Linked DNA regions of Homo sapiens: region 1 is linked to region 2. Evidence: fine-mapped expression QTL. A gene starts in region 2. The other region holds a variant in brackets. All regions are shown on one strand. Distances are between the middles of the regions. Region 1 holds the start of LINC02313 (long intergenic non-protein coding RNA 2313). Region 2 holds the start of ARHGAP5 (Rho GTPase activating protein 5).

Region 1 (5,377 bases), 130 kb after region 2:
CTCTGTAACTGCTGTAATTTAGGGGTGTCCCTGACTCTGAAGCCAACTGCAGAGGTTGAGAATAAGAAATAACTACATTTTCATGCATTCACTCACATTTCTCCTCCCAACCCACCACTCTAACTGTCTTTCTTTTAGCACAACTGTTGTAAATACATGATCCCCAGAACAGCAGCATCGCATCACCTGGGAACTCATTAGAAATGCAGATTACCAGGTACCATCCAGAAACTCTGAATCAGAAACTGTGCCCAGCAATCTATGCTTTAACAAGACCCTCCCCACGAGGACATTATTCTGATGAATTCTAATGTTTGAGAACCAGGGTCTTAGGGCACTGTTTCTGAAACTTTGTAGTGTATTAAAATCATGTGGGGTGCTTTAAAAAATTCCAATGCCCAGGCCACACCCCAGGTCAAGTAAATCAGGTTCTGTGGGGGTAGAACCCAGGCATCGGATGGATGTTTGGAAAACTCTCCACTGATTCCAATGTGCAGTCACAGTTGAGCCCCATTGCCTAAGGGTAAAGAACTCAAGAATATTAGTCGGCCATTTTCCCTATGGTGGAGAGCCTGTAGCTTTGAGCCCCGTAGAGAGAAGCCTTCCTGTGGGAGGAGAAAACAGTGTGTAAAATGAAGAAAGGGGCCAAACTGGGCATGCCTAAGCTTCGAAGGCCTCTTTCATTATAGGCTAGCTGCTGTAATGAAACAGGCAATTGCACCTGAGATTTTTCTGAAGTTGAAATGACCACGTGGAAAGGGAACAGCTTCTCTCCACAGTCCATCAAGAGGGGAGTGGCCAATGGGCCGCTTGGAGGACAAAGACCAGGGACACGCCCATTATCTGAGGCTTCAGGTATATTAAAATGAAGAAATCCCCAAATAGGGTTTCAAAAATTGTGATATACTATATTTTAGAAGTTTACATTTAATAAATTAAGGCTTTAACACGTGTAAGCTTTAAAAAAAAAACGCACAGGGTAATATAACCATCCTATTCACGGGATAATGGCAGGATTAATCTTAAAAATTCATGGGCCTGGTACCAAAATCAGGCATAAGTTTAAAGCTGATGATCATTTCCATCTTTTCAGTCTTATTAGCATATCTTCAGAGATAAATTTTTAAAAATCCAAATGTGAAGTCTCTGTGAGTGTGAGATCCCTGGATGAAAGGCCCTCCTTTGCCATGCCCCTGGGGCAGACTAAGAGGACCGCTGGAAAGAGATCCTAAGTGTGGCCCTGGAGCAGCTGTGAATGATTAGGTTGTGGGAAGACAACTGACATCTGGGTGCCTTGCGGCAGCCTGACCAGGGAGGTGGTGTCAGGGAAGCCAGAGCACCCCCCTTCCTCAGTGTGTTCCAGAGCAGTACAATACCTGCCTCCCTACACATAATGGATGCCTGCCCACCACCCTCTGTCCTCAGGCACACTTGGCTGCTGACAACAGGAAGTGAAACAGCCACACCCTCCTTTGACCCTATTAAGGTAACTCCTAGTTTGATACAGAGGCTTCCGGGGAGGGAAAGAAATAAGGGAGACACTTACCTTGTGCAGCACCTGCAGTGCTGTTGGTTTATAAAAGCACGAAATCTTCTGTCCCAGAGGCTGGACTGGGCTCATGACTGCATGTGAGATTGTGCTTTGGGAAGAGAAAGCAATCCCAGACTGAACAACAATTTTCTGGTGGCAGGTGCATCCATGAGGAGCTGCAGTCGGTCCCAGCAGCATATGCTTTCTCCTCTGGGAGGGCAACTCGGAGACGTGCAGACTAACGGGACCACTGGCTGCAAGCCTCAGAAACCTCTCAGGAGGTCCCTGGCAAGGCCTGTGGTATCTGGGCAGTGCAGGCAGCCTGGGCACCATAGGACAAAGGGGCGGGGAGTGGGGCAGGGAAGAAACAGCACAGAGGAAACAGCACACCTTGTTCTCATTGACTCGGAGTCAATGGCTGCCCACAGACTCTATTTCCTGGAGATTCAAGCCTCACACTGTCCTGTCCTCTCCCCTGAGTAAGTCTTCCAGAGAGTAAGAGCCACACCCAGGCAGAGGTGGGTGAGGCTGGGGTTCAAAGTACAGAGCCAGCCCTTTTATCTCATAGGCAGAGGAAATCATCCACTGTAAACCCACAGCGTCCTCCACCAGGGCAGCGTTTGATTCCTC[C/T]GTCTCATATCTCCGCTTGCCTTCCCTGTGGGTCAGTAGTTCCTGAGTTTCTCTAGCCTATAGAAAACATGAGGAGGAGGAGGAGAGATGGAGGGGGAGGAGGAGGAGAAGAGAAGGGAAGAATGAGCACATGGACTGCCCAGCCCCAGCCCCATGGCACCAGCATGGTAAACACTTGGAGGGAGGCCAGCCGTCTGGCGCCTCCAGTCTTCCACATCACCCCAGCCAAGATTCAGACCTGTATATTCTGGGCTCTTTCTGCCCCATTTCACCCAGGCTTTAAATTACCCAGACTTGGGTCTGGGTTATTCTATCCAAAACTTTCCTCTGAAATCTAGATTGTGATGCAATGTATACGTTCTCTAAATCAGATTTCTGAGGACTAAATGCCAGACCGCGTGGCGTAGCAGTCTGGCTGCAAACCATTTCCGTCAGCCCAGCGGAGGAACGCACAACAAGGTGCTCATCCCCGCAGCCGTGCACAGGAGACAGCAACGGTCCAGGTAAATTAGAAAGGCCTAACTTGAGCCAGCTAGTCATGGCAATTTAGGGAAAGTAAGGACTACACAGAGGCTCTGGGACGGCTTGCGGAATCAATGCCTAAGTTGCTGGATTGCTCCTTCTTTGGCTATGGAGCTAGTGGTTCCAAAATCTACCCCTTGATTCCTTAAGATGGAAGACCATTTAGACAAGCTGAGCCAAAACCCAGAGTCTTGGAACAAGCCTGTAACAATAATAGCAGCAGTAATGACAATGATTTTTAATATTCCTTGCTTAACAAGTGCTGGCCACAGTTCATGTTTTACATGGATTTACTTGGGGAATTTGATCGCTGGATCGAGGTGAGGACCATCCTCACTCCTCAGCTCCCCGGAGGACAGTCCCTTCCCCTCTGCTAGTCCTTTGACACAGACCCATTTTGACTTTTCAACTTCAACATTCTAGTTCAAGTCTTGGCCAGCTGTCAGCCTGGGCTTGTTTCTTCTCATCACAAGAAAAGAAACAGGGCTGCGAAGAGTAGCAAGCCCCTGACTGCTGCCCTTAAATGAGCTAGCCTTTAGGAGAAACACCCGAAGGTCAGGAGGCAAGCACTGTTTGCTCATGGCTATTGTTCCTCTGGGGAGCTGTGAGGGTGGGGTGAGTGGGGGAGGGTCTCTCATTTTGTGACTACACAGTATATAAAAAGCTGAAATGAAAATAATTCAGAAATTATTGTTGTCTTTATAAAACAACCTGTTCTGGGGTACCTTTCTGTACTTCCCTAAGTATATTTAAAACACAATTTTAAAATTCAATTTAACAAAGCCCCATCAAGACACATGCACTGCATCGTGCACATCTGTATAAATGCTCTTAAAGTGCAGGTTTGCATGAACCTTATTTTTCTAGAGGAGTGTGTCCTCTTGGGGAAAGAGGGAAAGAAGGCAGTAAAAATAGCATCGTGTCGCTGCTGACTGTGCATTGGCCACACAGCTAAGCACAGAGTGCCTAGAGAGCTTTGGCAGGATCATCACATGTTGTCCTCACAACAGACCCATGAGGGAGGTATCTCATCCCAATTTACAGATGAAGAAACTGAGGCTCAGGAAGATCAAGTGACGTCTTCATTATCACACAGCCATTAAGAGCTGAGCTTGGTGGGAACTCAGGCTTCCGCGACTCTAAAGACTAGAACTACAGACAAGCTGCAAAGCAAGATCAGGTCAAGATATTCTCCAAAGTTATATCCCGTGGCTCCTCAGTTACAGATGTGATTGCAGAATCCTGCCACTTCTTTTCTTTTTGGTCTCCTTGTTTTCTCAATCCAGTCAGAATGAATTTTAGATGTGTCCCAAGTGCAGTCTGCCTTCAGCCGCCGAGCCACTCAGACACTTGGAGCTAGCCCAAGTAGCCCAAGTAGTAGGTCTGTGAATAAACGTCACTTCTGGAATCATTCTTCAACAAGTACAACTTGACTAGAGAGACTCAAATACCTGCACTGGTCCCAAAGAGCCATCACCCAGTGCTGCCAAGTCTGACCAAGATGCATCCTAGCTAAGGAACCAGTCACACCACTGGCTCTCACGCCATGCCTGAGAGGAGCACAACAGGAGTTTCTCCAGGAAGCTTCCCAACGTTCAGATGAGTTGCTCTCCATGTGGATTCAGCATCCTGACGAGCTGACACCAATTCCAGGCCTGGCATGTCTAACAAATGCAGCATTCAAGCCCAAGACACTGAAATTGTTACCTCATGTTATAAAGGACCTGAAGCTGCATGCAATTAGCACTGCATCTGTGAGACTTGGGAAAGACAACTGAGAGAACAGGGTCTTAAAAAGACTATTTTGGTCCATATGGAAAATTGGTGTGTTGCATGCATGGTAAAATCCTTTCAGATATATTTTTAAACCTTATGTTTTTAAAACTGGGGACTTAAATATTATTATAGGAAAAGCAGCATGATTCCTTTAACATCAGAAGGAGATCTGTAAGTTAAAAAACTGTTGGAACCTTGTAAAGAAATTAACATTGTGAATGAACTCAGGCATTAGTGCAAATTAATCAAACTGCATACATTATAATTTTTAATCAGTCATGGAATTTCAATACTTGAAGGGACCTTGGAAATCATCTGTCCCAAGAGCAAGAATTATGGAAGATAAATGGGCAGGTGGAGAAAAACCTCCTGGCTAGAGAAAGGCACAGAAAAAACAAAGAGTTGGGAGACAGCATGCACAGTGGTTTGAAAGCTCAGGGATTTGCACACACAGCCTGGGTTCGAAGCTCAGCTTTGCTTTTTGATGGCAGTATGAACCAGGCTGAGTTGTTTGACCCTCCTATGTGACAGTTTATAAACAAAAGGTTATTCTGAGTCTTAAGAGAGACCATCCATAGAAAGGGCTTAGTATGGTCCCTGGGATACCATATGGTGCCTGGGACATCAGTGCTGAGTAAATATTAGCTCTATAGAAAAAGGAATTTTACAAACATAATCTGAGTGAGCCAGACTGACACACTATGTATAACTGTGGTCTTTCTCTTTTATTTGGCTATGAAAGAAAAGCAAAATGCAGTATATTGAAGCATTCAGATTTCTGACCATGAGAACAGGACATAATACCCAAGGTCTTTTTTGGAATAAAAAATGATCTTCATAAAAGGGAATCACATTTCAGCTGTAAATAAAGTCAGACCTAATAATCAAGAAAAGAGGGCCCCATGGAGATGGTGAATC
Region 2 (5,377 bases):
TCTCTATTATGCCATTTCATATTTAAGAAGTGACCACTAAAGGCCAACACTCATCTTACATCCTGCCAATGTTGGTAAAGTTTAGTAAAGTCTTTATGAGACCTAACTTTTTCTTCAATTAAAAAAAGTGAGTTAGAAAACTTATTATCGCTACTTCAAATCCAAAAAAGGAATGCAAATACAATATTCATTCCTTAAATAATCTTAACTTTCAAGGTCAAAATAACTCTCCAAAAAAATGACTGTGCTAATATGCTTTTCAAACACAAATAAGAAGGGGAGACGGTTTTCAAAACATTTAGGATAAGTATCTTGTGACAGAATTAAGGTAATAATTTTGCAACACATTTTAAAAATTGCTAAGGTCGTTTAAATGGGGAGGGACACTACAAAACTCATAAAGATAACAGAATTCTGCCGCAATTCTTACATCAAAGTGTAACCCACCTCACTCCCCAGTACTCTTAATAATTAATGTACAAAGAATGGCAAAATAAGACATGTTGATCTAGGTTTAAAAACACAGCCTACACAAGACAACCAAATCAATAGTTATTTAATCATCTGTACCGTCTGATTCTGCTTTAAGTCAATTAGATCAATAGTGCTATTTCTTGAAAGTTACAAGCATAGGTATGCGCAGCCTTTCACTCCAGTGCGTTTAGTCATAAATTGCTCCAGTGTCTTTGCAAGTTTTTGGTGACACATACTTACCGCTCTTTGTACTACAGATAAAGGTAATGGAGGTCAATTAGTATACAAAGGATAGATGAAAGCAAAAAATGAGAAAGGAATTTAAAATGAAAGCAAAATCTTACTCAAGAAACTATCTAGTAGGTTACCTAGACGGTTAGTAATACTTATCTACAAACACTGAATAAGAATACCGTTTTATCGTATTACAGTACAAATAAACTAGAATTGACAGCAAAAGGTTTCATTAACGTATTTTTAAACCAAACATTATTCCAAATGTCTAATCGCTGCATCTAGATGAAATTTTTGTTAGGAGAACCATTTTAAGTGGAAATGTAGAGCAAGCTCCCATGAAGTGAACGAGATCCTTCATGCGGATAAACACCACCTAACATTCTAACTGAATACTGGTTCTGGATTTAAGTGGAATTGACAAACTCGCCCCCCGCCCCTACCTGTAGAAAGCAACATAAGCAAGTACTAGTAAATACAGCGAAGCATTTTGCTGTTTTACACCTGAACATTTAAAAAAAAATTCAGTTTCCTGCCTATCACAAAGGAAAAAATAAATGATCGATAAGAATTTAAACTTAAAACGTAAGCACAAACCCATCTATATGCCTATCTTGCTCTATCTCAAAATATTTGAATTCCCATTTATTAAGCGATGGCCAAATCCGAATTTCTATCACATGGTAGAAGTATAAGCGTCTCCCCTACAACTTTTTCGGGATTTTACTAAACGGCCTAATAACAGTTTGCCCTTACTTCCGTGCACCTTTCAACCTCAGCTACACCCCGAGCCTCCAGCTCTCTTGCATTTCTAATAACGCTGAAGAGGGAGGGTGAGAGGGAGTATTTCTGTGTGGATAAGTGCGCGCGCGCTCCCGCGCGGCTCCCCACCCCCACCCCGATACTTTTCTTTAGTGGAAAGAGAGGAAGAATCTGGAGGTTATTCTAGCGAAAACTCAGTATCAAAGCCTCAACCCAGTCGCAGTCAGCCCATAGGACTCTGGGCTCTGGATGCGCAGTGCAACTTCTCATATCTTACTCCAAGCTTCAAAGCAGATGGAAAATTGGTGAAGAGAACCCAGGGAGGAGTCGAGGAGATGAGGGAAAGTGAAAGGGCCGATCCCCCCTACAAGGCGTTTAAGTTTGCAACCGAGACTGTGTTTCCGCGAATCTGCACCCGCCCCGTGTACCCTTTCCAGGTGGAACTCGTTAACAGCAGCAACCCGGCCAACGGACACCGCCACCTCCCCTCTCGACGGACCACCCGAGACTCGAGCAAGTGAGGCGGCGGGCGAGAGCGGACGCCTGGCGGGGCCGGCGATCCCCGGCCAGCATCAGGCCTCCGCCGACCCTGGCCCCGTCACCTGTGGAGAAAGCACCCCCTCCCCCGGCCTCTCTGCCCTTCACGCCGAACGTATCCCTAACGCTGCAGCTGCTGCCCGCCCGGCCTGCGAAAACCGAGCGCAGCGCCAGGCTCCCCTCGGCGGCCGCGGGGCCCCAGCCCCTTCAACTGGTTACAACCGGCAGCGGCGACCGAGCGGGGCAGCTAGCCGCAGGAGGGTCCCCGTCCGGGAGGGGGCAGGCAGGCTTGGAGGAGCGGGGTCCGCAAGGTCCTACCTAACAACGTCGGTCTCCTCCGTCTCCTCCTCAACGGCAGCGGCCCCGGCGGTGGCGGCGGCAGCGACATTCCTGGGGACCGCTCCCGCCGCCGCCGCCTCCTCCTCCACTCTCCGCTCGCCTCTCTTCCTCGGCGCGCTCACCGAGCGGCGCGTCCCTTCAGCCACCTCCCCCCGCCCTCCCCGACACACACGCCCCGAAACCCTGAGCCCCACGGCTCCCGCAGCCAGCTCACCCACCCTCCCTCCCTCCCTCCCCGCCACCAGCGGCGGCCCGTCCCTCCCCCCTTCCCCAGCGCCCGCCGCCGCGCCGGGCTCAGTAATGGCGGCCACTCGGGCTCCCTCGCGCTGACGGATTTCTCTCCCTCTCTCCCGAACTTTACCTCAGCATCTCTCCCGGCGCGCGCAGCCACACACCCGACCGGGGGCGGAGCGGCGGCGCGGCGGCGCAGCCTGGACGGGACGCGCGCGCGCGCGCGAACCCGCGCTGCCCTCCCCACAATCCCCCGTCCCCGCCCCTTCACCTCGCGACGCCTCCCGCGCCGCGCACCCGGCACGGCCCCGCCCCTGCCCTCGTCTCCCGGGAGCCTGGGAAGGCGCGAGCTATCCAGTCGGAGGGAGGGGGACGAGCGCGCGGGGCCGCGTCCTCGCTCGCGTCCCCGCTCCCTCCTCCCCTCTGCTTCTCCCTCCCCTCCACTCCCCCATTGGCTTCTACCCCTCCCCCTTCTTCCTCCGCCTCTCCCACCATTGGTTCCCTCCCCTACTCCATTCCTTCTCACCTTTTCCCTTTTACCCATTGGCGTGAGTATTTTTCCTCAGCTTCCCTCTTTCTCCGTATTCTGCTCCTCCTCAGTCCCATCCTCCACGCTTTGGAAGCTACTGCCTTACTGCCCGGAGCGCCGTCGTCCCCGAACCTCCCCTGCTTCTCCCTTTCCTTCTGTTCCGGTTTCTGGTCGTAACTCAAGAGCAAACCACCGTACTGCAAAGGAACCAGATATTGTGCTCGCGGTTCCAAACCGGGCATGGGCACCGAATGCTTCTCGATAAATCCCCTTATGGTCTCTGAGCATTAAAGAAAGCAAGGGAGGAAAACATGCGCCCAAGCTCGTTCGCAGGAACATGTTCGCGTGTCTGCGCCTGTGTGCGCAGCCAGTTTTCTGGCTGAGGATCGCTCGCCAACTACAGACATCACCCGCCCAGGACCCGGTGCCACACTCACCCAGAAGACGAAACTCCACAGGAGCGAGAAGAGGAGTCCATTTCTCCGTCGGCTCGGCACGGCACGGGGATGCAGGCCCCTGATTCAGTACGTTCTGTGAAAGTGGAGCGAGAAGCCAAGACGTGGATCGAGAAGCCCCGTGGGGCGGGTCTCAGGGTGGCCCAAAAGACCCCTGTTCACGCCACTACCAGCCTAACTTTAGGAACTGTCGTCCACCTGGCTTTTATTATACTGCCTTAAACATATTCACTTTTTTGAGACTCTAGAAATTTCACAAGTTTTGGGGTAGAGCACACTGGGCTTTGGGTGTGTTTCTCATGAGGGCACTGACGCTGAATGGTGCAGTGAGAAAGGACGGTAGAAACCACTGCCTTTGCTTTTACCATTGAAGAAACTGAGGTCCTGTGACTTTCCCGAGGTCATCGGAATCTGCCTTGCACAGGAGACTTAAAATAGTTGCCAGCAGATAAAAGAATGAGCAAAACCACATCTACTCCAATTTGTTAAGTCTGAAAGAAAGTAATTGAGGGGGGATTCCTCTTTGGGGAAATATTTATTTCCTGCATTGAAAATAGTTTAATGTTAGTAAACATATAAAAAGTATTTTAAATTCAAGTTATTCTTTATTTCTTATGTTACATAAGGTACTGAAGTTAGCCAAGGTTGCTTTTGTGTTATAATGATGCAGCTGCTGCCAACCAGAAGTACATTTACGGTCTGTCAGTAAAGAAAACAAAAACTGCCTGTTGGTAAAAATCTATTAGAAAATATTTGTCAGTAAATTTGTCACAATATTCCAGCAGAAGTTCTGTTCGTTTTTCCGTCTTCCTGCCCTTCATATTTCTCAAAGGTAGACTTAATAAAGGTAGAAGAGACATTTCTAATTTTTCTATATATCTCTTGCTCCCTAATTTCTAAAAGGCATAACTAAAATGCTTTATTCGAGCCACTCCCTTGCATCTGAACCCTACCTACCAAGTAGGTTAAGAGTAGGTTAGGTAAGGTCTGTAGCTACTTCTTTCTTTCAGTTACAAATTGTAGGTGGGAAAGAAGGATGCGGAAGGAAACTTGCAAGGAAAGCAAACAGAAAGAAAAAGAAGTAAAAAAGGAGAGAAGGGAATTTGGTGGGTGGTCCAACCATCAAAATGTGGTACTAATGCCATAGGTATCTACACCACTTATGTAAGTTGGAATGTTGATGCATTCCAACGCATGTTTTTATCTTTGTACTGAAAGCCCTTAAGAATACCCGAAGTAAACATATAAAAAGTATTTTAAGTTCAAGTTATTCTTTATTTCTTATGTTACGTAAGGTACTGAAGTTAGCCAAGGTTGCTTTTTAGTGTTATAATGATGCAGTTCAAAGTCATAACCTGAATAAGATGTTAAGTACTATAGAGTGTACACCCTAAAGATACCTTAAAAATTATGTCCTAAATAATCAGAAATTTTAATAATCATGGACATGTATCAACATAAACCAAAGCCAAATAAATCAGGGCTTCTAAAGAAAACGTTAAAAAGGTGTAATGTTCAGTTATAGGACATGATACTGGAGGCAGGGAAGACTTGAAATCTCATTTATTTTCTTATAATGAAGACACCAGAAGACGTTAAAAAAAAAAAAAAGATCACGATTTCCAAACAATGATTTTCATAGTCGACATTATTTTCAGTTCTTTATCTTGATTTAGGGAGCCTGGAAATTTAGGACTTCGTTTCTTATTAATACTAATAGTCTAAAGGTGTTTACCAGTACAAATAAGTTATTGTATGTAATTTGCTCTTCTCAAAAAATAGAGTTTTCTGTATCAATAAAAATCTGAAATGGGGG

Evidence for each region.
Region 1: its variant is fine-mapped to the expression of ARHGAP5 in whole blood (INTERVAL, PIP 0.91).

Annotation. Positions count from the first base shown.
Region 1 is chr14:31,941,278-31,946,654 of GRCh38, reverse strand. LINC02313 (long intergenic non-protein coding RNA 2313) reads right to left here and starts at 1,802. Exons shown (of 2, transcript NR_146544.1): 1 at 1,547-1,802. RefSeq lists an enhancer at 1,321-2,520. The variant C/T (reference allele first, on the strand shown) is at 2,162.
Region 2 is chr14:32,074,384-32,079,760 of GRCh38, reverse strand. It overlaps ARHGAP5 (Rho GTPase activating protein 5), which reads right to left and starts at 2,457. Exons shown (of 7, transcript NM_001030055.2): 1 at 2,326-2,457. ARHGAP5-AS1 (ARHGAP5 antisense RNA 1 (head to head)) reads left to right here and starts at 3,062. Exons shown (of 1, transcript NR_027263.1): 1 at 3,062-4,342. RefSeq lists silencers at 2,104-2,398, 2,197-2,416, 2,777-3,036.